Regions from separate parts of the Homo sapiens genome. Here all the other regions are reported to be linked to region 1. The links are microRNA targets in miRTarBase. Many come from high-throughput screens and were not tested one by one. Region 1 holds a microRNA gene; each other region holds the end of a gene's coding sequence.
Evidence for each region. The annotated mature microRNA hsa-miR-4295 reads CAGUGCAAUGUUUUCCUU and lies in region 1 at 1,754-1,771, opposite strand. An mRNA with a match to its seed (bases 2 to 7 or 8) in the 3' UTR can be bound and repressed. Matches are read on the target gene's strand: a 7mer-m8 pairs with bases 2 to 8, a 7mer-A1 pairs with bases 2 to 7 and ends in A, and an 8mer does both.

Region 1 (4,093 bases):
GCTTAATCTGTTAAAAACTATTCCAAGTTTTACTCCCCATTTCCTATTACATGCTGGGTAGTTCACTCATCCCTTAAATTCAGTGGGCATGAATAAAAATCACAGCTTCTTGCTATGTGCCTCTTCCCATCAGCTAAATGTGGGCGAATCAAGTGGGTCTCTTGGGACTCACACATATCAACTCAGTTTGAATCTTCCTTTATTTTGCTTCCCATTTTGAACCAGTCATCGGGTTTTCTCAAATCTTTCTTTGAATTATCTCTCATACTTGTTTCTTTTCCATTCCTACTGTTGTAACCTCTCACAAAGACCAGTGCAAAAGCCTCTTAACTGGTTTCCCTGTCTTCATTGTCTACAACCATCAGTACGTCTCGATTGTTTGATCTTTCTAAAATCTTCCTAAAACACCACTCTGGCCATGCTCACCAAGAAAAATCCAAGGTTTAAGCCAGCATTTAGAACCTTTCAGAATTTAGGCCTAAATACTCTTTCAGGCTTCTCTCTCAATTCTCTCTGGCATATATTCTAGACTTGGCCACCTCTGAGCTTTGACCCTTGCGGTTCCCTGTCTGGAATGCCTCTACCAATCTCCAATCCGTACAATCCTGCTGACTGCTCACGGTTCTGCTAAAACACTACATCTGCCATGAATTCTGCATCTGCCTTTACCAAAGGGATCTTTCTCCTTAAATTCCTCAGCACGCTGTCTCATCTCCACAAGATTTACATGCCTGCATTATCCTCTTTACCAGAGTAAAAGCTGCTTGAAGGCAGGAAATGTGTTATCTTTTATTCCCCCCAAATAATGAGCACAGTGCCTGGCTCATATTATGAATAAAGGCACCTCCAGCCCCAGCTTTCTGAACTTTGCAGTTACAGGCAACAACAAGGCAGTGAAAACTCCGGCAAATGTCCGTAGGAGACTCCTAGAATTAGCTCCTCTAATGCTCCTCTGTCTGCCTATTTTAACAGTTAAGGAAGACACAGAAAAAATGTTGGCCACTCAGTCCAGGATTCAACCCCAGAGTTTATTTATTATGCATGTTTATGTATTCAGATTGTGAAGGAGGCAATGGGCATGGATTGTAAATTGATGGCAAACTTAATGAAAAGCAGACAAAACAGTGTAAGAAGGCTTAAATGCCTTTTAGAACATGGCAGATATATAAAAAAGTCATAAGAAAGTTTACAATAAAGAAAAGAATGTGGAAGAGTGAGAGTCAAAAAAGATAATTACGTAGAAGATTTTTAAACAGCTTGTCTAATGGAGATGCTGAGTGATTAAGACAAACAGCTTGCCAAACCACCTTGTCACAGGGACATAAATCTGAAAAAGCAGCAGACTCCTCAGAAAGGTCAGACAGATCACATTTAGTTTCAAAAGGAAGAAAACATGAAATTCGTGTGTGTGTGTGTGTGTGTGTGTGTGTGTGTGTATGTGTGTGTGTGTCTGTGTGTGTGTGTATAACCACCGAGAGGCAATGGTATGATATTGATAATCTTTGGAGAAAGAAACCTTCTGTATTGTCAAGTGACTTAAAACTCGAGGCACAATCCAAAACAAGAATTAAATAGCACAGCATAGTGTAGTCAACACCATATGAGAGGGTGCCTTCAGGGCAACACACACTGCTGCCAGAACACCAACCAAAAAATGGACAATCAGGATCTCAAAAGAGATGAGTCACCCAGAGGGTCTCTGTAGGAACAGTCTAGTTTCTTAGCCTTGAACCGAAGTGGTCTTGCCACAGGCAAGGAAAACATTGCACTGTTCCACAAAGTCAATTCTAAATGCATAAGCCATTGAAGCATATTTCTTATGGAATAAAGACTGAGGAGAAATAAAGGTTGAGTAATGAAAGTAAAGATGCAACAAAACTTTTAAAGTGGCCAATCTTGCTCATATAATGCTTGCAACCAAAAGGGAAGAAAGCTCTATTACTCTGGGAAAAAGGTGTTTGGATACACCACTAAAATAGGAAGCCTAAAAGAACCATTGTTTTATAATTCTGAGTTAACTGTGATCCTTTTTCCTTTTTTCCGTTTGTTAACTGATGGTATTTTCTGGAGTGAGTCATGACTTTTTTTTTTTTTTAGTCTAGAGCCAACTTGATAATGCTATTTAAATAAATTAACTAACTAAACTGCAAAGTATAAGCTCTTATGCCCATAAAATAAGAGAAGAACTGGGAAGTTCACCAACAAGGATGAAATAGGAGAGGCATTTAATAAAATTTGGTGACAGAGTCAGGGTAAGGTAACTCTCTCAGTGACACATTTATGTAATGCTAGTCTTCTCTGCATGGGAGACATTACTTTTTGGGGGCAATGCCCTTTTCCTCACCACTGCTTTTCTCCAATCTCTTCTTTGACTTCCTTTTGGGATCCCTGGGTATCCTGCTGTGTTGTTCCAGCCCCGGTGTTTTGCCTGCTATCTCTTTTCAATGTCTGAAGATCAATTATCCCTTCGTGCTAGCATAGGGAGGACAGAAATTCTGGGGACCACAACTTTTCCATTATACTTGAAGGAAAAAAGCAGCTCTCTCCTGTAAGATGGAGAATTCGGAGGTTTCCTCACAGGCTTCTGGTGATGCTTAAAGCAGAGAATCAACCTACAGGGTTTTAGCACAGTGCCTGGCACATGCGGAGTACTCAAAGGATGTGAGCTAATCTTCTTCTTACTATTATTATGTAAGTCCCGTAATTCTCTATGACCCACTATGTGTTCCAGATGATGCCGAAGACCTAGAAAAGTGGCTTTCATCACCATCAGACCTCTCCTCTCCTTCAGACCTCTCCTCTCAGGACTCACCATGTTGGTCAGGCTGCTCTCAAACTCCTGACCTCGTGATCTGCCCGCCTCAGCCTCCCAAAGTGCTGGGATTACTGGCATGAGCCACCACGCCCAGCCCAGACCACCTTTTTGTAACAAATATTTCACACAGGATTTTTAAAAAAGAAATCAATATAATGCCCTAGCTGTAATATAAATACAGGAAAATAACTTACAACAAAATAAGAAGTATTTCTATTTGTAAATACCCAGGCATTACTATACTAATAGATACAACTAAGTAAGTACATGCTTGTGCCTATACAACTGTCACATGCATGTACAATCAACATGCATGTGACACTACATATGCAAACCAATCCACAAGCACTGTAATGACAGCTCAAATACTACAAGTCGCATTACCATGAACACTGTACTCACCCAACTTTCCACCTGTTCCTCTTCCCTAACCCCCTTATGGTTAGGTAGGACTATATGACTATTTCTGGCCGGTACACTATAGTCAGAAGTGATGTACCTCAACTTTGGGTCAAAATATTGATGAGCTGGTATGTGAATCCCGTCTATCCCTGCCCGCAGTGGCTGGCAACGATCCCCATGGTGGAGTCTGGATGCTTGAGTAAGTGGGGCAGAGCCCTCTGTCAATGCTTGATCAACTTTTAGCATAAATAAAAAAGAAACCTTTGTTGTGTTAAACCACCAGAATTTCTAGGTTAATTTGTTACTGTAGCATAATCCTGTCTATCCTTCAATGGTAAAGAACTCTTTTAAAATAAACCCTGATTTTACACAATTATTGTATACTTGGAAAACTCCACATACGTTCAAGCCACACAAAAATACTTTGTGTTCATATGGAAAACTACGTTCAGATAATTATAAATAGGGTGTGCACCTTCACAAATGACCAGCAGGACATTTGAGAGTTTGTGCAGGATCAGGGAGTGTTGTAAAAGACTACGCAATACATTCCAGGATGTTTATTACCCTTGAGTTATCACTGAGATAACCAAAATGCCCCAACAAAGGTTCAAAATGTCCCCTAGGGAAGAATACTACCCCAACTGATGGACACTAACTTGGAGAAAAGATCAACATAACCATGGCTGGCCAAGTTGTATATTTTTACAATTACAATTACAATTATATTGTTATAATTACCATATTGTGGAATTTCATCAATAAGTGATTCATAGATTACAGTGTCTTAGAATCCTGGATTATGTTCTATAAGATGTAAACAAAAATAGGCGAAATAAAAGGGTTCTCTGGTCCCAGATTGAGCAATCCTGGGCT
Region 2 (4,093 bases), not on the chromosome of region 1:
GCAGCACCTTCAAAAAAGAGAGCAGCATGGCAGACATCTTACCATATTGTATACCGGGAGCTGTTTACTGGTTTTGAAATCATTTGCACTCTGGTTCACTTTTGTAGGAAGTTTTGCCACCCAGGCCTACCGAGGAGCCCAGAAGCCCTCTCCATTGGAACTGATACGTGCCCAGGCCAACCGAATGGCTGAAGATCCAGCAGCCTTGAAGCCCCCCAAGATGGACATCCCAGTGATGGAAGGAAAGAAACAGCCACCACGGGCCCATAACCTCAAACCCCGTGACCTGAATGTGCTCACACCCACTGGCTTCTAGAGCCCTCTTTCCAGGGATTCTGGTAAAGGTGGTTTCTTGCATCCCACTCCCCTTTTACCTTGGCTTTGACATAGGAAAGGTATATTTAAAAACTTAATCAGCTGGGCGTGGTGGCTCACGCCTGTAATCCCAGCACTTTGGGAGGCCAAGGTAGGTGGATACCTGAGGTCAGGAGTTCAAGACCAGCCTGGCCAACATGGTGAAACCCCGTCTCTACTAAAAATACAAAAATTAGCTGGGCGTGGTGGTGGGCGCCTGTAGTCCCAGCTACTTGGGAGGCTGAGGCAGGAGAATCGCCTGAACCCAGGAAGCAGATGTTGTACCGAGCTGAGATCATGCCATTACACTCCAGCCTGGGCGACAGAACGAGACGCCATCAATAAATAAATAAATAAAGTAAAGTAAAAAACCTATTAAATTGAGGCTAGAGCTGGAGATGTAATTGGTTTTTGAGAAACATTAGTATAAAGCTTGCCCTTGTTGTGTGGAAGAAGCCATTTTGTACTGCTTTAAAGTTAGACTAATATTCTCAGCACGGGTGTATGGGGACCTCATTACCTATTTTTTTCATCATTTACCCTAGGTAAGAACTTTGATCACTGCTTACTAGGTAAAGAATGTTTGTACTGTTCCAAAACCCAGGCTTCTTTATTCCTTTACCACTATCCATGTGAGCATTGACAAATCATGGCTTAGAGGTGCTCACTGACTCGCTAAGACGACTTTGGCCCTGTTGATGACTGGTGCTGTGCTCCAGCCTTATCAGTTAGGGGACCCAAGGTTTGTTTGGGACCTGGGTACAGGTAAAAGCCAGACTTGGCAGGGACCCCTCTTTCTAGGCTGAACCTTGAGTCCCCCTGCTTTTTGGCAGACCTAATGGATCACTGTCTTGCAGCTAGTTCTTCATGTGGGGCCTCTTAGGCCAGTGCCGGAGGAGGCATGCTCCTCTTTCTATGCCACAGAACAAACACTACTCTAGCAGAGCCTTTCTTGCACTTTAAAGTGAGATTAATTTAGCTGTAATTTGGTTAAAAACTTCCTAAGAGAGAAAATTAAGTCTACTGATTTGGTATAGGTAAATGGACATTAAACTTTTTTAAAGTAAAGGAGATGGTAGATACCGTTAGATTATAGTCTTGAGGTTCATGTGAAGCCAGTGGTGTTAACTTACTTTGATTTCCTTGTTCAGGTCAGGGCCTGGAACGCCTGTGCGGGGAGGTCACTCAATTCAAAATTTTCTGTATGAAAGCATTTTTCACCAAAATGAGCCTCATCCCTTTATGCAACACATAACCTTACTGAGGGAGGGAAATACAGAAGCCACCTTTTTATTTCTCTTCACTGTGTACAAGTTCACTTGTTGTCTTGAACACTGTCTCAAATACCTGCTTTTTGTTTTGGATAGTACCTTGTCTGTATAAGAAGCTGGCCTTTCCATAGAGAGGCCCTGGAGTCTAAAATTATGAGAACAATTAATTTATTTGTGTCTTCTATTATGATCTCGTTTTGACAATAAAAATCCTTACTACTTTCTCAAATGTGGCTATTTTTTTGTCCTTTTAACAATAGTTATTCCACTCTACCCACCCAGAGTCACACTGAACTTGGTATTTTGAAAAACCATTGCCTTTTTATTGTCTCCTTTTAACATCAAATGTTTTATAACACACTTGATCCTTTTGTTTCTACCCCCTATTCATTACAGTCAAATTAACAGGCAATATAATAGGTCTAACAGAATGCTTGCATTTCATTAGGGAAAAATGAACGTCTCTCTCCTGAAACAGGTTGTCGGTACCTTGAATGACATAATATTGGTGTATAGACTAGGTTCAGCAGAGGGATTTTTTCCACATCTTGAATGAAAATGTTAAACATGTGATGCACAGAGTATTAACCTGTTTCAAAAAAGTATAGATAAATAATTTATTAAAAAATATATATACCTTGTATATTTAAGCCATATTTGAGAACAGGCTAGGATAGGATTATTTAAAAAAAGATATTTACTAGAGTTAGAAATTACAACCTACTGATTAAATAATGCAGGTTTGGTCCTGTAAGATTTTAACCACTTTTCATGCTTTTAGAGCTTCTGAGCAGTTGGAGAGAGAGTTCAGGAGGTATTCTTGGCATTCAGTGCTTGGCAGGCCCTCAGGAGCCGCTCCAGCCCTTTTGAAAGGGCTCTGCATCAGGGTTCAAGTCCGCAGCATAGAAGAGCAGGAGCTTCAACAAGTGCACTTTGTCTTGGAGTTGGGGGACAAGAGGCTCCCCCAGCATCTGGATCAGGCGGCTGCGGAAGGCCTCAATCTGCTTCTCTACGTCTACCACTGTGATGTCATCTCCTTGCTGGGGTTTGGGCTTAATCCTTTTGATTATTAAGTCCTTTCGGTCGATCACGGAACTCCTTAAGTGTTCTGCAAGAGGGAAAAAAGTCAGTTGGGTGCTCTGAACTGCTTTTTAATTCTTTTTAAGAAGTCTAATTTTGGTAGGTAGAGTCTTGGCAAAGACTTGCTGACTAGCTACAGGGATACAAGTCGAAGGCTGTGTGAGTGCCTGCAGTAACTCCACTTCCAAAAGGCCCTTTGTTCTCAGTTCTCTCGGGTCCTTAAGAAGTTTTACATTAAAAAAAGTGATATGGTTTGGATCTGTGTCATTTTTTATGATCACATAACATGGTCAAAAAATGAAAATACTGAGGAAACAATTAGACATATTCATCTAGTCCATGTTTTAGCCAATAGTATTTAACATGAGTATGATCATGAATAAACAACTAGACAGTCCCAAATTGTAATCCCTGATGTTGGAGGTGGGGCCTGGTGGGGGTGATTTCTCATGAATGGTTGAGCACCATCCCCTTGGTGCTGTTCTAGTGATGGTGAGTTATCATGAGGTCTGGTGGTTTAAAGTGTTTACGTAGCACCTCCTCACTCTTTATTCTGCTGTGGCCACGTAAAACGTGTCTGCTTCCCCTTGAGCCACGATTGTGTTTCCTGAGGCCTCACTGGAAGCAAAGGCCACTATGCCTCCTGTACAGCCTGTAGAACTGTGAGCCAACTAAACTTTTCTTTATAAATTACCCAGTCTCAGGTGTGTGTGTGTGTGTGTGTGTGTGTGTGTGTGTGTGTATACTCCTGACCTCAAGTGATCCGCAAGCCTCGGCCTCCCAAAGTGCTGGGATTACAGGTGTGAGCCACCGTGCCTGGCCTACTCCATGTTCTTGTCAACAGTATTTAACATGAGTGTGATCACGAGTAAGCAATTAAACATCCCAATCATAGGACATGTACAAAATAACTGGCCTGGACTCTTAAAAAATGTCTATTATGAAAGACAAGTAAAAGCTGGGAACTGTGCTGGACTAAAGGAGACCAAAGAGTATGACTGCCAAGTACAGTGCTTCATATTTGACCGTATCCTGGCTCAATCTAAAATCAACTACCTAAAAAGTATATTACTGGGACACTATTAGATAATATTCTATCAAGAACAAGTTTCATGGCAGGCTGTGGTGGCTCATGCCTGTCATACCAGTGCTTTGGGAGGCGGAGATGGGCAGATCACCTGAGGTCAGGAGTTTGAGACCAGCCTGGCCAACATGGTGAAACCCTGTCTCTACTAAAAATACAAAAAAATTAGCTGGGCATGGTGGTGCATGCCTGTAATCCCAGCTACTCGGAAGCCTGAGGGTGGGAGAATTGCTTGAACCCGGGAGGTGGAGGTTGTAGTGAGCCAAGATCACACCACTGCACTCCAGCCTGGACGACAGAGCTA
Region 3 (4,093 bases), not on the chromosome of region 1:
TCTTGATGTGATGGCTCCAAGACAATGGGAAGAGTAGCCCTTGCCCCCTGCTACGCTACAGTTTGGTCACCTCAGATACACATTAGCATTATACGACACCATGTCTGACATTATTTCTTAAGTAAGTGATTTCTAACATTGGGCTGCTACATAAGAATTGGCTGAGAAGTTGGACAAAATACACATTTTTAGACCCCATCTTCAGAGACTTTATTCCTTGGTTTGGGTAGGGCCTGTGAATCTGTATGTTATTTTAAGTTGCCAAAGTGATTCTTATTTTCTTCCAAGTTTGTGAACTACTTGGCAGAAATGCAAATAAATAACTATAAAATGTTTTTCCTAAAAGCATTTTTCCTCTTCTAGGCTAATGGCTACAGTTTTATAAATATTGAACATGGACAAGCAGTGTCCTTGCTAAAAACTTTCCAGAATACAGTTGAACTCATCATTGTACGAGAAGTTTCCTCATAAGCACTGTGGACAAAAAAAGCGGGGAAGACAGCAAGATTTATTGGAAGATACTTACAGGGGAAATTAATATTTTGACTATTTTTATATATAAAGAAGAACTCAAAAAATTATGTTCAAATTTGTACATTAATGAAATAATGGAACTTGTGGTTAGAGGGAAAGAACCACTGTACAGAATATAAAGGAGACTGTTGAATTCATACCATATAAAACTTGTTAGGTTTTTAAACATAGCAATCAAGGCTACAAAAACAAACCTGTGTTGTTTTTGTATAGATTGTAGGTTTATTTTTGGATTTCATATACATGACTGAACTGTGTGCAAGGCAATAGTTAGCCTTGATTTTAGCCCAGAGACAGATGGCAGAGCTATCTCTCTCATAGCTTTTATGCCCTTATTTTTATTCAACTGGTATTAATGTTTTTCTCCTGAAACTACTTTTTTTGATGTGGGCAAGAGATTTGAAGTGTTGGCTTTTGCTATGTGCATATTGAATTGAAGAGTGAGTAGGTGAAGGTGGTGCTGGTGGGTTCACTTTCCAAGGCCAGACTAAAACAGTTATTTTCTATAAAAATCTGGAAGCAAAGAATGGGGATGGGGAGAGCTACGTGGTAGTATGTTTTTATTAGGAGAATAATGCAATAAAATATGTAATGTCTTTTTTATAAAGCAAAAAAGACAATAATTGCATTTATGAGCTCGGCAGGATCTGTTCTTGTCATAGCCATTGACTATACATTTGCTACTGGTGATTCAGTTTTTAATTTTTTAGTCACAGGAAATTTTTAACTCTACTGTAGATGCATGTCCATGCATTTTCTGTGTTATGGAAATCCACTGATTTTTTTTTTTTTTTCAAATGGTGGTACTTGCAATCTGTTTTATAATTAGTGCTCCATTTAAATCTAATTTATAATTTTTATTTTAAGCAGCAAATGAAACAAAAATGGCCAGTTTTAAGATTGTGTTGCCTGTAACACAAAATGTTACGAAGGTTTAGGAAAGCCTCTTTGATTTTTGTTTGGCCTTGCATTGCCTTGGTAAAGTAAAAGGAAACAGTACACTTGGAGCTAGGAAACCAAAGCAAGCTTTGTGAAACTGGCACAGTGATAGAGAATTGCTGTGGAGAGTTATAGAGCAAAGGGATGGGTCCTTGAGGCCTGCCAGTGTGTAAAGGTGTTCAAATAAAGGGCTGTTTCTACAGGTAACATTAAATGTGAACTCAACACTTCCAGAGTCTTTAAAGGGTTTCTATGTGTATCAGTGTAATAGTGTTTTACCACCAACTGCCTTTCTTTGTTCCTAGTTACTGTAACAAATATTTGATGATAGAGGTTTATTAATTTTGTTTATCCAGACCATTAATTTTATTTGTTTTTGTTCTATGTAATCAAATAAAATTTGAGTAACATGTAATGGTAAGGATTAATGCATGGTTATTTGGACCAGAAAAAAGTGCCATAGAAGACCAATAACTGTTTAGTTGAGGCTAGTCTGGAACCTTTCATTAGAGCAATATTTGGTTATTGCACTTCATTTTTATTTACTAAGAAATGCAATTTGGGAATTTTTAATCTGTTATGCTTTGTTTATCAACCTTGATTTTAATTAAGACTTTTATAAGACTAGCTTAAAACACCAACCAACATTATTTTTGCAAAAGTGAGTTGGACTCACTTTCCATTCTTGCTAGTCAGAGTAAGTAGGCAGCACTTTTAAAAATATGTGAACTCAAATATTGCACTTCTTTCAAGATGTTATCAATTGGTTATTGTACTGTATAGTTTTAATAATTTTGATTGAAACCCTTTAACAACTCTTTGTAAATTTTAACTCATTTTAGTTGATTTTCAGTACTATTTACATAGGAATTGATTTTTATGGATATAGTAGAAGAAATGTGCTGTATTTTGATAAAATTCACTTATTGTATGTGTGTTGTAATCTAAAAAAAAAAAGAATGACAAACAGCTTCTTTAAGACAAGTCTCGGTGTTCCCTTTATTCTTAGTTTGTTTTTAAATATTAATTTTGGCATTCTAAAATAGCTAACATTTCTTTTATTGATTTCAGATTTTCACAGGCACATTCTACTTTTAATCAGAAATATATTTAATAAGTATAATTGTGAAGTTTTCAACTACTTTACCTTGAACCACATATACCAATTATAATTTTGGAAAAGGAATTAAGCCTCACGGAACAATGGATCTTCAGCAAACCTTAACTTCATTGTCTGCACATTACATTGAAGTATTATAAATGCAACAGATGTTATATGCACTGGCATTTTATCCTACTCTAGTTAGTTAAAATTTTATAGTATTCTTGCAACACATAAAGTTGCGTAAGAAACTTTACCAAGAGGAGTATTATAGCCAAGTTTTCTTTGAAAGTATTGGAAAACTAAAATTAAATGACAAGGACTTTGAATTAGAATTTTGCTGTAATAAAGTTTCAAAATTTGAATAAAATAATTAAATTTTTTGAGGAAGTGGAGAAGACATTTTTAGTTTATATATTGTTGAGTAAATTGTAGTTAAGGCCTATACCCATAACTAACTTTAGTAAGTATTATATAGCAATTCATCAAAACCACAACTGTCTTTTAGTGATTTTGTCTTTAAGAGTAATTTCTTACTCTAACCAGTAAAAAAATAATACTGATCAGAGTAATTTATACGGCATACAATAGTTGATACAATCTAAAGATTTATGCTAATTAAGGAATTATCACTTCATCTGAATCAATGAAATTCTAAAATTCCCTACATATTTATTTTGTAAATATTCTTCTGACCTCTTTGGACTGGATATGAAGATATATATATATACACTTAATTCTTTTAAACACAAAACTTGCCATAAGCAGAACCAAACTTTTAAGTATTAATTTGCTGCACTTAAAAAATCCCATTAGCAGCTATGTAATATTTTTATCAACCAACATTTATTCATTCCAAATTTTTGTATATATCTAGATGAAGTAACACATAGAGGATAGATAACAAACTAATGATGTTTAAACTGGTTTATTTACAAAATTCGGGGTTAGAGAAATTCTCATGAAAAATATACAATTTTTTTTTAGCATTAAAACCCTGTATATCTAGGTGTGGAAGAAGTGTAGTTTATCTCAAATTATTATTATTTACTTCTAAAGGGAGGCATTAAGATGGGAAATGTTTCTCTGATGGAGATTGACGTGTGAAATCTATTTGGAAGGGTATTTTTTTCACTCAGTCTGTTGCATTCTTACAGCCTTCTGTTTTAATGTTCAGTGAATAGGTTTCTTATGAAATGGACATTGAAATAAAAATTATGATTCAAGAGCATTAATTGATGAACAAGTGAACAAGATGCCTCTTTAAAAAAAAAAAAGAAAAAGTAATCTAGACAGGCAGCCAACTCAGACCTTTGGGTATTCCTTTGTTTCTAAATAAGGACCTTCAGAAAAAGTTGACCATATTCTACCTAAAGCTGCTAATTCTTTACAGAATTCATAAGCCCAGGGGATAGTAAGTAGTCATTTAGTTTTGGAAAGTTCTTAAGAGAATGCTATCTTCTACAGTCTCATGAAGCAGTTTTTCAAGATTAGAATCTGTGGTCAGCTATAACGTAC
Region 4 (4,093 bases), not on the chromosome of region 1:
TTCATTCAGCTGGAAAAGCTTTGTTACCATTCAACTTAGGAGGATAAATTAGGAAAACAATCAGTAATAATGTTAGGTATTTGTTGTTTAGAAAGATTTTTTTACTTATAAAAATATAAGAAATAAATAATCCAATCTCTCCTGCCATGCAATAATTTTGAGTAACAAAGTTTGTGAGAGTACAGAACATAAAAACAGGCACTATCAGACCTTCTTTGGCCTAAAAAGTGCTAAAACATGGCTTTAAAATAGGTGAATGACATTTAAAGTAGTATTTTTGACTGCCTATATATGTTCCAGTATTTAACCTGAAACTCTTATCTACTAGGGAGGTGAGTTTACAGTTACAACTATCTAATAAATACTGCAGGAACTTATATTTAAGTATTTCTTCATATACAACATTAGAAACTAATTTCCAGATAATGTTTCATTTGATGACTTCAGGAAAGGACTTACCTTTTTCAGAAAAAGAAAAACTGAATGTTTTTCTTTTGTTCCTTTCCTTTTCTTTTTATGGAGAGAAAGGAGAGAAGTTTTAGGAGAAAAGGTGGGAGACTTTTCATATACCAACTCGCTGCTCCTAGGCATCTGTGTGGAATGTGGAGAAGCTGTCGAAGCCCCGGGTCTGGGGGGCACAGGAAGCAGTCCCTCTGAATGGGGAGCAGACACTATTCTGCAGTTTCCTTTCCATTCCACACACTGGAACCCACCACATCCTCAACAATTTTCTTAATTCAAAATGAAAAAGAAATGAAAAGTGAGCTGGTTCTATAAAAAAGGTAGAATATCGAAAATTCCCATTTGTAGTTATCATTTGGAAATAATTTGCCATACTTTGGCATCTAAATATAAATACATATTTATCATGGTGTCCCATTCATTAGAGAGCACTTCATTTGCGGACTGAAAATCCCACAAACACATTTGATTGAAGAACAACCTTGGTCATCATGACTGGAGAGCTGTTAGGTATGTAAGAAAAGCAGCAAAAGGGTTCTGGTTCTTGGGGCTGCTAATGGACAAAGGAAACCTCCCACACTTTCATTTCACAGCAAGACTCAAAAGATATTAAGAACCCTACAGACCTCAGTGCTATACATGTCAGTTTAACCTTGACCAAAATGAGTGAAAATGCACACATGCCTTGCCTTTCCTGCTCACATTTTAATTCCACCTATTTTACATCCTCATATAACCAACAAGCAGGGTGGCTCAGAAGCTCCCCTGCAAATCTCAGTGGCTTAGCTTTTCACATTAACACAGAAAACCTCAACCAAATGGCTTTGCTGCTGAAGTCTGTAAAGGCATCATTCAACATCTCATATTAATAATGCTCTCACTGCATAGAGGGTTCAAGATTGCCTACCTGAGGGTATTACATATTGAAATTCTGATTCCAGAAATCATTTCTGGACGTTCAAGAGATTTTTTTCCTTCTCTGAAATGAAAATTTATTGTGGGCCAGGCACGGGGGCTCACACCTATAATCCCAGCACTTTGGGAGGCCAAGGCAGGTGGATCACTTGAGGTCGGGAGTTCAAGACCAGCCTAGCCAACATGGTGAAAACCTGCCTCTACTAAAAATACAAAAATTAGCTGGGTGTGGTGGTGGGTAGCTATAACCCCAGCTACTCAGGAGAATCACTTGAACCTAGGAGGTGGAGGTTGCAGTGAGCCGAGATCATGCCACTGCACTCCAGCCTGGGAGACAGAACGAGACTCCGTCTCAAAAAAAAAAAGAAAAGAAAATTTATCTCAGATGGAGCCAATCTTAGGTTTATGAACTTTCAAAACATAAAAAGCTCTTGAAAGACATATTCTTGTCTAGATTTTAATTTCCAGTTTTAAGCAGTTCAGATAATTCATTTTTGGAACTTTGACAATTATATGAAGCTGGGGGAAGAACAGGCATCTCTCCCCAACCTCTGCATATTGTTGGTTTCACTGTAATGAGGAAGGAGGACTGACTTATGGGTGAAGGAGGACAATGGAGTTACAATGTTGACCTAGAACTCTCTCTGCTCATGGGTCCTCCCCATCGGTCAGGCCGCACTGAAACCAAATAGCTCATTTTGCACACAGGTGTGTTTTTCTCTTCTTTTCTCCCCCTGTGCCTGCCCCATCTGAAGTGACACCCTCCTCCACCCTCCACAGCGCTCACATTCTTCCGTGGCACTCTTGATCAATCAAGCAAACAAGAACTTTCCCTAGACCTTTCTTCAGAGAGCATAAAGAACATCCAAGTCAATATTACCTATTCTTTGAGATCCAGGGACTGTGCTAATTTTGACATTTTATATGATATTATACCATTTTAAATGTTTGCAGATATATACCACCTTCAAAATTAGGAAAAACAAGCTGAGTTCATTTTCTAACACTACAAAATCAGCATTCTTGCTGCTACTGTGTCCTAATGATATCTGGCAATCTTAACCAAAAGCAGGTAGCTGTTCCACGGTCTCATCACCCTGCTCACTGTAGGGTGTGCTGTGAAGCCAATAGTAAGTCTCGAATTAGCAGTTGCTTGTCCATGCCACTGCTGCCACAAAGGGCCAGGCCACAGCCAGGATGCTGCATCCTGTTGTTTTTGGGCAGCCCAAAACAATTCAACATGACGTTTGTGCGGAATTGCTGGCTTCACCCACCAAGTCTACTCCTCAAGCAGGCTGGCTCTTTAGGATTTATCTTGTTCAAACAGATCTGCCTACTAGAAGAGATGCCATTAAGGAAACCCACCTCAATGACTATTCCTCAAAACTAGGATAGGTGATCTCCTGGAAATGGCAGTGATTTCCAGTTATTCAAATAGTGACTAATAAAGCTCCACTAACCCTAACCAAAGGCACATTTGGTAAGCAATAAAAAAAATGGCTTAACCTAGGAAGAGGATTTTCATTTAAAATAAATCTTATCCCCTGGCTCCTAACAAAAATAAAATTGGAAAAACCTAAACCAAGCAAAACTTTTCTTTAAAAGCAGTGGCTTCCAACTTGCTTTTCAACTCAGTCACCACTAGAAAGGAAGTAGAAGGCAAGGCAAATCAAATTTACAAGTTCTAAGTCCTAGAGACAGTGGCAAAGCTTGGGATAAGGTGGGAAGTGATGGCCAGGCTGAGATAGAGGGAGATCCAGGGCAAATGGAACAACCCTTTGGTGATACAATTCAAGGACTTCCTATGGTGGAAGGAGCTAGTGAGGACAGTAAATTCCAAGACATACGACCTATCTGGAATGCTCAGGAAGCAACAGGCTGCTGCAAGCTAGCACCTGGGAAGGGACAATTGTTCTGAACAAGAGATCAAGGCTAAGCACAACACAAATCCTACAGGGAGAAGAAAAAGAAAACAATGCTTGGGTATTTGATTATGTCTAAAAATGAAAACAATGAAAAAAAAAGAAAACAATGAGCCATTCTTTTTAGCAGTAGAAATAAACCTAATTACTCATAAACCATATTTTGAAATGAGAATAAATCAACAGCTTCATTTTGGAGCCTTTTAGAGTGCTAGAATATCTGGCCAAGGTAGACTGTGAAAGGTAGGCTCTTCTTTAAACACGGTTATGGTTCAGCAGTTATTTGCAGGTCCTTGGGAAGGCACTGTGCTGAAGGAGAGCAAAGAGTTTCTTTTTGTGCTTTTTTTTTTTTGAGGTGGAAATATTTCTTGTGACAGTCAAGGCTCTTTTCTGATTTTTTGTTGCTCATACAAGCAGTCCCATACGAGTGACTTTGGCCGATAAAAACGTGTGCAACACAAATACAATCGGCTTCGGACAAGAGTGCAGGTCCATGGTCTGTGGAGAAAGGACACTAAGCATCACTACCTCACTACCATATACAGACAACTTAATAAACGAAGATGCAAAATAAATTTAAGGTAGGTAAAGAATGTGCCAGAGCTATGGAAACTCTTAGGAACTTAAAGCCACAGGCAAAAGTGCACTATGGAGTAAGGTTATTCCATGTCATAATACTGGTGTGAGGTTTCACATCCCCAATTAGGAGACAACTGGTGGTGTACTGGGTTTCACCATGCCTGGTAGGAAGAACTAAATAGTAGAGGATTTAAAATCTAAGGCCAGGCACGGTG
Region 5 (4,093 bases), not on the chromosome of region 1:
GCTGTTTTACAGATGACGGTGGCAGACAGTGGCTGAGCAGTTGGGGCTGCAGCTCATGTCCCCTCGGGCACCTCCGTGCCTTCTGGAGACTCAGACCTCTGCCCACCCCAGACCAACCACATCCAGATTTCTGTAGGGGGGGCTCCAGAGTGGCACTTCCAGCACATACTGTAGGTGATTTTTACATACAGTCAAGTTTCAGAAGCATTTCTGGAGAGCTCAAGGTGTGTGTGGGGGGGGACATGGTGGCCCTCACCCATCCTTCTGTTTGCTTCATTTTTCTTCATGAATTTGTCTCTTCCTGACATGTTACATATCTGGTTTCTCCTGCCTCCTTCACTAGAACACAGCCTCCAAGGGGGCAGGTTGGGTTTTCCCGTCTCCAGCGCATCTGGAGAGGCACCTGTCCCAGCACCATAGTGACTGGATGTGTGTGCAGAAGAAGGAACGCGGTGCCCTCTACTCCAAGGGCAAGAGCTACTGGAGTCTTTTTGAAAATAAAAGTGTTGTTACATGTGTGATATGTAAGTGGCATGTGCTAATACACATTTTCTTTCTTATTAACAGTGGTTCAGCACTGAGTCATGCTTGCTTCTGCTACGCACTGATTTGTTCTATTCCAGTTTTCACGTACATCGTTTTGGTGACATCTCTGCGTTATCATTTATTTATATGGAGTGTATTTTCTCCAAAACTTCTCTACGAGGGAATGCACCTGCTCATTACAGCTGCTGTCTGTGTATTCTTCACGGCAATGGATCAAACCAGACTCACACAGTCTTAGACTAAGCTGAACACTGGAAAAATAATACATGCTTAAAGTCTGCTGTTATTCTAAAATGAAAGATATGAATTCAACAAAGTTGATGGATAACTTTCTTTGACTGCTCTACCTGAATTTAGACTAAGCAGTAAATAGTTTAATAAAAGATCACTTTAATATACAGTTTGTATCATATTTTCCCCCATTGACAATCACTCTAGAAGCTTCTGAACTTTTAATTTCCTCTGAATAAGCTATGGTGTGACCCAAATATGTGTGTTTAAATCAATGAATGAAAAGGTTCTGGACTTTGTTAGAGTCCAGGAGCTCTGTGGGAGGAGGCACCCAGATTACCTTAGGGAGCACAGAGCTCTTAGAATCCTACAAACCACTGAGGGCCCCAAGGCGCTTTGGTTTATGAGGGTTACATGTATCAGTGTTTATGGCATTTGAGATGAAAACTAAGATAAAAAAGTATTCATTTATAAGGAATCTATTGCATATTAATGAAACACTTGAAGGAAAAGTAACTATATTTTCCAAAACAAAAAAATTCAGTGAGACCCAGCACTTTGGGAGGCCAGAGTGGGGGTATCACTTGAGCCCAGGTGTTTGAGATCAGCCTGGGAAACATAGTGAGACCCTCATCTCTCCAAAAACTTCAAAAAATTAGCTGGGCGTGATGGCACACACCTGTGGTCCCAGCTACTCAGGTGGCTGAGGAAAGAGTATTGTTTCAGCCGAGTTCAAGGCTGCAGTGAGCCATGATTGTACCACTGTACTCCAGCCAGGACAACAGAGTGAGACTCTTGTCTTTAAAATGAAAAAATAAATGTTTAATGAGAAAAGTGATAATGTTTTACATTTTTACAAACCTCTTTAATGCCTGGCCTAATTGAAGCTAGTTGGATTTTGTGTTTGACCTGTTGTGATATGTGTGTTTGGTTACAATATAAGAAGAAAATCGGCTGGGCAGAGTGGCTCACACCTGTAATCTCAGCACTTTGGGAGGCTGAGGCGGGGGCAGATCACCTGAGGTCAGGAGTTCAAGACCAGCCTGGCCAACATGGTGAAACCCTGTCTCTACAAAAATACAAAAATTAGCCAGGCATGATGACAGGTGCCTGTAATCCCAGCTACTTGGGAGGCTGAGGTGGAAGAATCGCTTGAACCAGGGAGGCAGAGGTTGCAGTGAGACAAGATTGTGCCATTGCACTCCAGCCTGGGTGACAGAGTGAGACTCCATCTCAAAAAATAATAATTATTATATATATATGAAGAAAATCCAGCCTCAGATCAGTAGTTGGAAAGAGGAGGCATATTTTAATGTCCTTTTTCTGATTATTGTGGATGTTCTTTTTTGATACCAACACCAAATCTTTTTTGATGCCAACACCAAAACTCAACAAATGTTAGTTTGCTGAAGGTTAGTTGGACAAAAAGAAAAGAAACGAGTGCATATAAAAACTGGTGAAATGCTACTGAGGGCTGTATTCGAATTAATAGAATTGTGCCCACATCATTTTCCTGGTATTTATCTGGTTGTGTAAGATACCATCATTGGGGGGAGGTGGGTGAAGGATATGTAGAACTCTCTATACTATTTTTGCAACTTCTTGTGAGTCTTCAACTATTTCAAAACAAAAGTTATTTTGAAAAAGAAAAGGTTAGCTGCCATGTGGAATCTGAAATCATATCAATGAACTTTCATGTCCTGATGCATTACGACACATTGACCTGTCTTGCACCCTGAATGGAACTTTTACCCAGATGTGATTCTTAACATCTGCATTGTTGTTTGGAAAATAACAGTTCACTGGATGATAGAAATTTCCAAATGTTGTTCATTATTCCATACCAAAATCACTTATTTATATCACAACCGAGCTCATCAGAAAAGTCTTTAAAGAGTGAATGGTGGCTCACGCTTGTAATCCCAGCACTTTGGGAGGTTGGGGAAGCAGGAGGATCGCTTGAAGCCTGGAGTTTGTGACCAGCCTGGGCAATGTAGTGAGACCCCATCTCTAAAAAAAAAATTTGAAAATTAGCCAGGTGTAGTGGTATGTGCCTGTAGTCCCAACTACTCAGGAGGCTGAGGCAGGAGGACCACTTGAGCCCAAGAGTTCAAGGCTGCAGTGAGTTAGGATTGCACCGTTGCACTCCAGCCTGGGCAACAGAGCCAGGGCCCATCTCTAAAAAAATAAAAATGTGAAGAAAAAAAATCTCACCATCCAGAAGAAACAGTCACTAACAGTTAGTGAATACAGTTCACTAAATGGAAGAAGCAGGGAGGATGCATAGATGCATACATGAAAATCATACTATATATTTATAAATATTTTATATAAATATATATACAAATAATATATAAATATATATACAGATAATATTTATATAAATATATATGCAAATATATAAATATGTTCATGCAAATAATATTTTATATAAATATATGCAAATAATATTTTGTATAAATATGTATGCAAATAATATTTTATATAAATATATATGCAAATATTTTATATAAATATATGCAAATAATATTTTATATAAATATATTTATGCAAATATTTATATAAATGTATATACAAATAATATATAAATATATATTTATGCAAATATTTATATAAATATTTATACAAATAATATTTTATATAAATATATATTTATACAAATTATATATAAATATTATATATAACTTTTTAATCCAAAGTAGTTATATAAGTTTTTAATTTAACAGGAAAAGTGAAACCAAAGAAAAGGCTGAATTTTGAATAAATGTTTCTTCACTACAAGAAATATACAATATTCTTTTAAAATTAATTTCTTATAACATCTATTAAGAGAGCTGGTAGCTAACAGAGAAAGGGCAGCTTCTCAGGCAGAGGATACACAAAGCCTTGTTTCAATTGGAAGGCTGATTGTCCACATCAAAGAGTTTCTGCCTCTTCATATCTGTAACTATGGAATATTGATAGGACAATGCAATGACAAGATTGATACTGTTTTAAAGTATTGTTTATGCTATACTTTAATTCATTTATCCTCAGTGGAGCCCTGTGACCAAGTGGATTTTTTTTGTAACACCAATAACTTGATCAACTTTGACAATACAATCAAAAGATGTTTGGAGGGGAAAACACTAGAGGGATCATTACATGGTAAAGTGATTTTTCATCCATTCGGCCACTCTATGTCTTTTGATTGGAAAGTTCAATCCATTTACATTCATTATTATTTATAAGTAAGGATTTACTCCTGCCATATTACTTGTTTTCTGGTTGTTTTGTGGCCTTCTTTCTTGCCTTCCTGTCTTCCTTTAGTGAAGGT
Region 6 (4,093 bases), not on the chromosome of region 1:
AGACAAATTCCCCAAATTAACTGTCAGGGCACTGTGGGGAATCTCAACTAAATATAGTCTCAACTGTAATAAGAATTTGGGTTAGAAATAGTATTTTATTTATTCTAGTTCTTAAGACATCAAATGTGAACTCTACTTTAAAATTCTTTGTTAAATATACTGGGATTTGTTTCAAAAGCATCTTCTACCCTTCTCCATTACACTGATTTAATGGAAACCTGTTACAACAACAGTTCCAACACAAACATATGCATGCACGGGATCACCTTATAGATTCTAGCTACATAGTTATTGAAACACATCCCACCTGTCAAGTGGCATAAATGTACATCTTCTATATACAAAAGGTAAAGTGCATTATTAAATTAGTGAACTGACAGATTGTCTGCCTGGACCATACAGCTTTCAAATAGACAAATGTGAAATTCTCATATTAGAACCAATTATTTCAAGAGGTTCCAACTAGCTTTTCCACCCTGTCATTTATTTTTTTGGCCATGCTCTTTAGTGCAAATAAGCTTGTGTTTGACTCAAGTTTCAGGGACATGGCAGTCTGGGGCTTTAACAAGGAAAATTATAAAATGTAGAGGAACTTTAATATCTTTATAATACATTGCATCTTTTGCATAAAGCAACAGATTAGTGCTGCTTTCGATTGCTAGGAGCACACTGCCAACTATCAAGAGGAACCCGTTTCCAAATTTCATACTATTAGCTTATATTACTACAGTTTGAGCCTGTACCACATTATGCTTGGATTATTAGGTGCAAACATCATCAGTGTTTTAGAATTATACAGTGAACTAGTACTTTTGGTTACTAACTTTCATGCTCATTTTTTAACTTCTAACTTCCAGTTGCCTTAAGAGTTTAATGTCTTCAAGGCAGGGATTCTGTTATTTTGAAGGATACCATGAACACTTGCAGCTCCATGTATGTTACAAATGACAATAAATAAAATGCATATTGCACAGATAAGAATAGTAGCTTATTTTATAAGATACATGGCAATACATGTCCTAAGACCAGAGTTTTGAACTGGATCATATTTAATTACGGCTAATGAATTCTTGGGAATTTTAAGTATCAAAAAGTCATAGCATCATCTCATTTTTGAATGATTAACTATGAAAAAAATGAAACAAAAGGACTGGCAGAAGGCTTAATAATTTTAGAGTATACTCAATTGCCAGTATATATGCATCTATTTAATCTGCAGCTTTGAGATGGTAAAAACTTTGAAGTATACATACAAAGTAGAAAATCTGGCTGCTTAACTAATTCTTTACTTAAATAATTAATGGAAAACTAAATTTAATAATGTTTATATACAATGAGTTAAAGATATTTATCTTTAAGTCTGACATGGTATTGTATGTATGTATACACACATATATATGTATACATGTATATACATATGTCTGTGTGTATATATATAGATATAGACACATACCCAAATCTTATCAGACCCAAAAGGTAAAAGGAAATCATTTAGACCTAATGGATATAAATATTTTAGAAAGGAAGACTTTAAGAGAGTGTATACACTCATAGCAATAGCGATAGGAACAATCAAATACTAGAATATTCACAGCTCCAGTTTGCCAAAATCTGACAGGTTGATTATTATTAATAGGCACTATGATGGGCAGCAATAACAATCAGTAGTACAGTAATTCAAGTGCACATCATTCCTTCATAGACCAAAAACTACTTTTTTAGCAAGCCTACATAGTTATTTTACAGTTAGGACTGTTTAAAAATCCTTGCTACTTTTAGAGTCTCAACACCCACCATGTGCTATTAGCTCTAGTACTAACATTATCTCCTAACCTTCAGTTGTTCCATAGTGATCCAGATGGTCCACAATTATAATGAACTAATGAGATTCCTTCACGCTACTAGAGGAAATGTGAAATACAATCTGCAAACCAACACTAGTATATATGTCGGGGTTACTGATTGCTTGTTCTTAAGTAACATAAACCAATGAAATTAATTTTTTTAATTCATACCATCAAGTTTTCTTAGTGACCTCACGTAAAGGTATTGGGGGACAAAACTCTGGAAGAAAAAAATCGCTGATATAATTTTAAATTACTTTTAGCATATAAAAGAAGAGCTACATTCTGATTTGAATCCATGCAGCCAGCTCTCATCAATGAGAGTGATATTTGGGGGTTGAAATCAGTGTTCTGGCTCTTAAATATGATTAGATGGACTTATTGTGTGGGAGGTGAATAAAGCCAAGATAAAAGACAATAATTTCATTCAGAAGAAAATATAGCTGAATAGATGTAATTTCAGTCAATTAATACAGGATGGGTTGGTACACATATAACACTATATCCACTTGTTTAAAAAATTGCTTAGGTGTTGAAAAATTGCTGTGGCACTTCCTGGAAAGTAATTTTTAATACAGGTAAATGGGTGAGTCTTGTGTAAAGTCAGAAAGAGCACCTTGGAAAATGCCTGAATTTTCCTTTCAAATATATTTATAACCAATCTTCAAATAATATTTTTCTCAGACTGGAAATTTGTATTCTAAATTATTTTTAGAAAAAAAAAATCCCCACCCCCTCCAGAATTAAAACACCTGTAAAATTCAGGATTATATTGGAAGTGTTGACATGGTTTTAAGGGTAGCAATTGCAAAAGTGCTACTAAAATATATTATTACAGGTATATTTTTATATCAGTTAATTGGTACACCAACCCTTCTGAAAGAGTGTTAAAGAAGAAGCATAAAGTATAACACCTTGAGTCCATGATATATTTTGGGGAAGAAACCTCTTGCAATCTTTAAATTAGCATGAAAAGCTACACCACCAAGATTTCCATAGCAAAGCCATTGGATGAAGCCTCCCACTCAATGTGACATAAAAGTAATTCCTGAAACTTTGGAAAGTCAATAAAAATATATGGAACATTAAGTAGAGGTAAAGAAGGGATTGTAACTAAACTTAGAATAACGAATTAAAACTCTCCCATGGCTTTGATATGGCAACTATAAAATGTAGGGTTACCACAAAGTTTGAAATTATAGAATACTATAGTATTCTTAAGAAATATTATGACATTATATTTTTAAGGTTTAATTAGGTAATAAGATTTGATCCTTTGATGGTATATTCAGTTATTCAACGGACAATATACGTCTACTTGTACTTTTATAAGTAAATATTTATATATACCGGAGGTCAATTTCTGTTTCTGTGGTAACTGCCCTACAGGTAAGCTTAGCAGCTTTTAATGAAGTAGAATTGAAATACTTTTGGGGGAAAGTCACACTTCTATTTAAGTATATGTATCTTTTTTCGGGATTATGTCATAGTGCAATGTAAATCTTAGTTATGGTATTTAGAATGTCAGAATGTCACATTTTGTGCTGATTTGCATACTTCAATAGTCTGGAGCAGTTGAAGCAGCTAAACTATTTAGCTCTGGGAAGGTTGGAATTCCCGTAAGAATTATAGTGATCTATGTGTAACATAACATGAGAATCAGACTTCCTGAAGTATCAACTACTAGAGGTATTACTAATAACAACGGGCCAAAAAAGAGGAAAAACTTCTTCAAAGGATAATGGATCAGTACTTTTAGCCAATTTGTGATTTTAAATTTTGCCTGATGGAGTTCAATTTCACTCTAGTCGAGGCATTCTTGTTCTTCACCACTGGCCTTTCTGCCATCCATTCTCTTTTCTTTATGGCTGTTGCAAATTTTCCTCATCTCTTCTTCATACTTGATAAAATTCTCCCCAAACCTTGTCCAAGCTTTGAATGGAACAGTAATAGTATTACGGTAAGGTGGTCTCACCTCACTTACCTTCAGGAAAATTCCATATTTATTAGAGCCCACATCAAAGTAGAACCTTTTATTGTCCACTCTGAAAGAAGTCCCCTCTGGGAGTTCAAGCGGGTCATCGTCTCCACCTCTTCGTTCTTCTATGTCTCCTTCGCCATAGTCTTCAATCAGCTGAACCAAGGCATCACGAAACTCAATCATTCCTTGTGCTGGGAGGACAATAGTCTGTTCTTGGCCCAAACTGTGGCCAAAATAACCTATCATGCCAGTCCCCCGCATCATGGTT

Region 2: the mRNA of KIAA1191 is a reported target of hsa-miR-4295. Seed matches in the 3' UTR shown: 7mer-m8 at 1,307-1,313.
Region 3: miRTarBase lists ERBIN as a target of hsa-miR-4295. Seed matches in the 3' UTR shown: 7mer-m8 at 1,999-2,005 and 7mer-m8 at 2,211-2,217.
Region 4: the mRNA of SNTB2 is a reported target of hsa-miR-4295. The part of its 3' UTR that is shown has no 7-base or 8-base seed match.
Region 5: the mRNA of PIGG is a reported target of hsa-miR-4295. The part of its 3' UTR that is shown has no 7-base or 8-base seed match.
Region 6: miRTarBase lists PURG as a target of hsa-miR-4295. Seed matches in the 3' UTR shown: 8mer at 3,332-3,339.

What each region holds. Positions count from the first base shown.
Region 1 is chr10:112,631,858-112,635,950 of GRCh38, reverse strand. MIR4295 (microRNA 4295) reads right to left here and starts at 1,781; the gene lies at 1,697-1,781. All of the region lies in intron 5 of VTI1A (vesicle transport through interaction with t-SNAREs 1A), which reads right to left. It overlaps LOC124902503 (a long non-coding RNA gene), which reads right to left. Exons shown (of 2, transcript XR_007062292.1): 2 at 1-4,093.
Region 2 is chr5:176,343,823-176,347,915 of GRCh38, reverse strand. KIAA1191 reads left to right here. Exons shown (of 9, transcript NM_020444.5): 9 at 108-1,854. The coding sequence ends at 316. SIMC1 (SUMO interacting motifs containing 1) reads right to left here. Exons shown (of 10, transcript NM_001308195.2): 10 at 1,927-2,733. The coding sequence ends at 2,471. Among named protein-coding and RNA genes, the nearest start is that of KIAA1191, 16 kb to the left of the region's middle.
Region 3 is chr5:66,078,060-66,082,152 of GRCh38, forward strand. ERBIN (erbb2 interacting protein) reads left to right here. Exons shown (of 26, transcript NM_001253697.2): 26 at 364-4,093. The coding sequence ends at 471. Among named protein-coding and RNA genes, the nearest start is that of SREK1, 64 kb to the right of the region's middle.
Region 4 is chr16:69,300,536-69,304,628 of GRCh38, reverse strand. It overlaps SNTB2 (syntrophin beta 2), which reads right to left. Exons shown (of 7, transcript NM_006750.4): 7 at 1-3,797. The coding sequence ends at 3,705. Among named protein-coding and RNA genes, the nearest start is that of VPS4A, 8.8 kb to the left of the region's middle.
Region 5 is chr4:538,586-542,678 of GRCh38, forward strand. PIGG (phosphatidylinositol glycan anchor biosynthesis class G (EMM blood group)) reads left to right here. Exons shown (of 13, transcript NM_001127178.3): 13 at 568-1,615. The coding sequence ends at 784. Among named protein-coding and RNA genes, the nearest start is that of TMEM271, 36 kb to the right of the region's middle.
Region 6 is chr8:31,028,091-31,032,183 of GRCh38, forward strand. PURG (purine rich element binding protein G) reads right to left here. Exons shown (of 2, transcript NM_001323311.2): 2 at 2,760-4,093. The coding sequence ends at 3,649. Among named protein-coding and RNA genes, the nearest start is that of PURG, 3.2 kb to the right of the region's middle.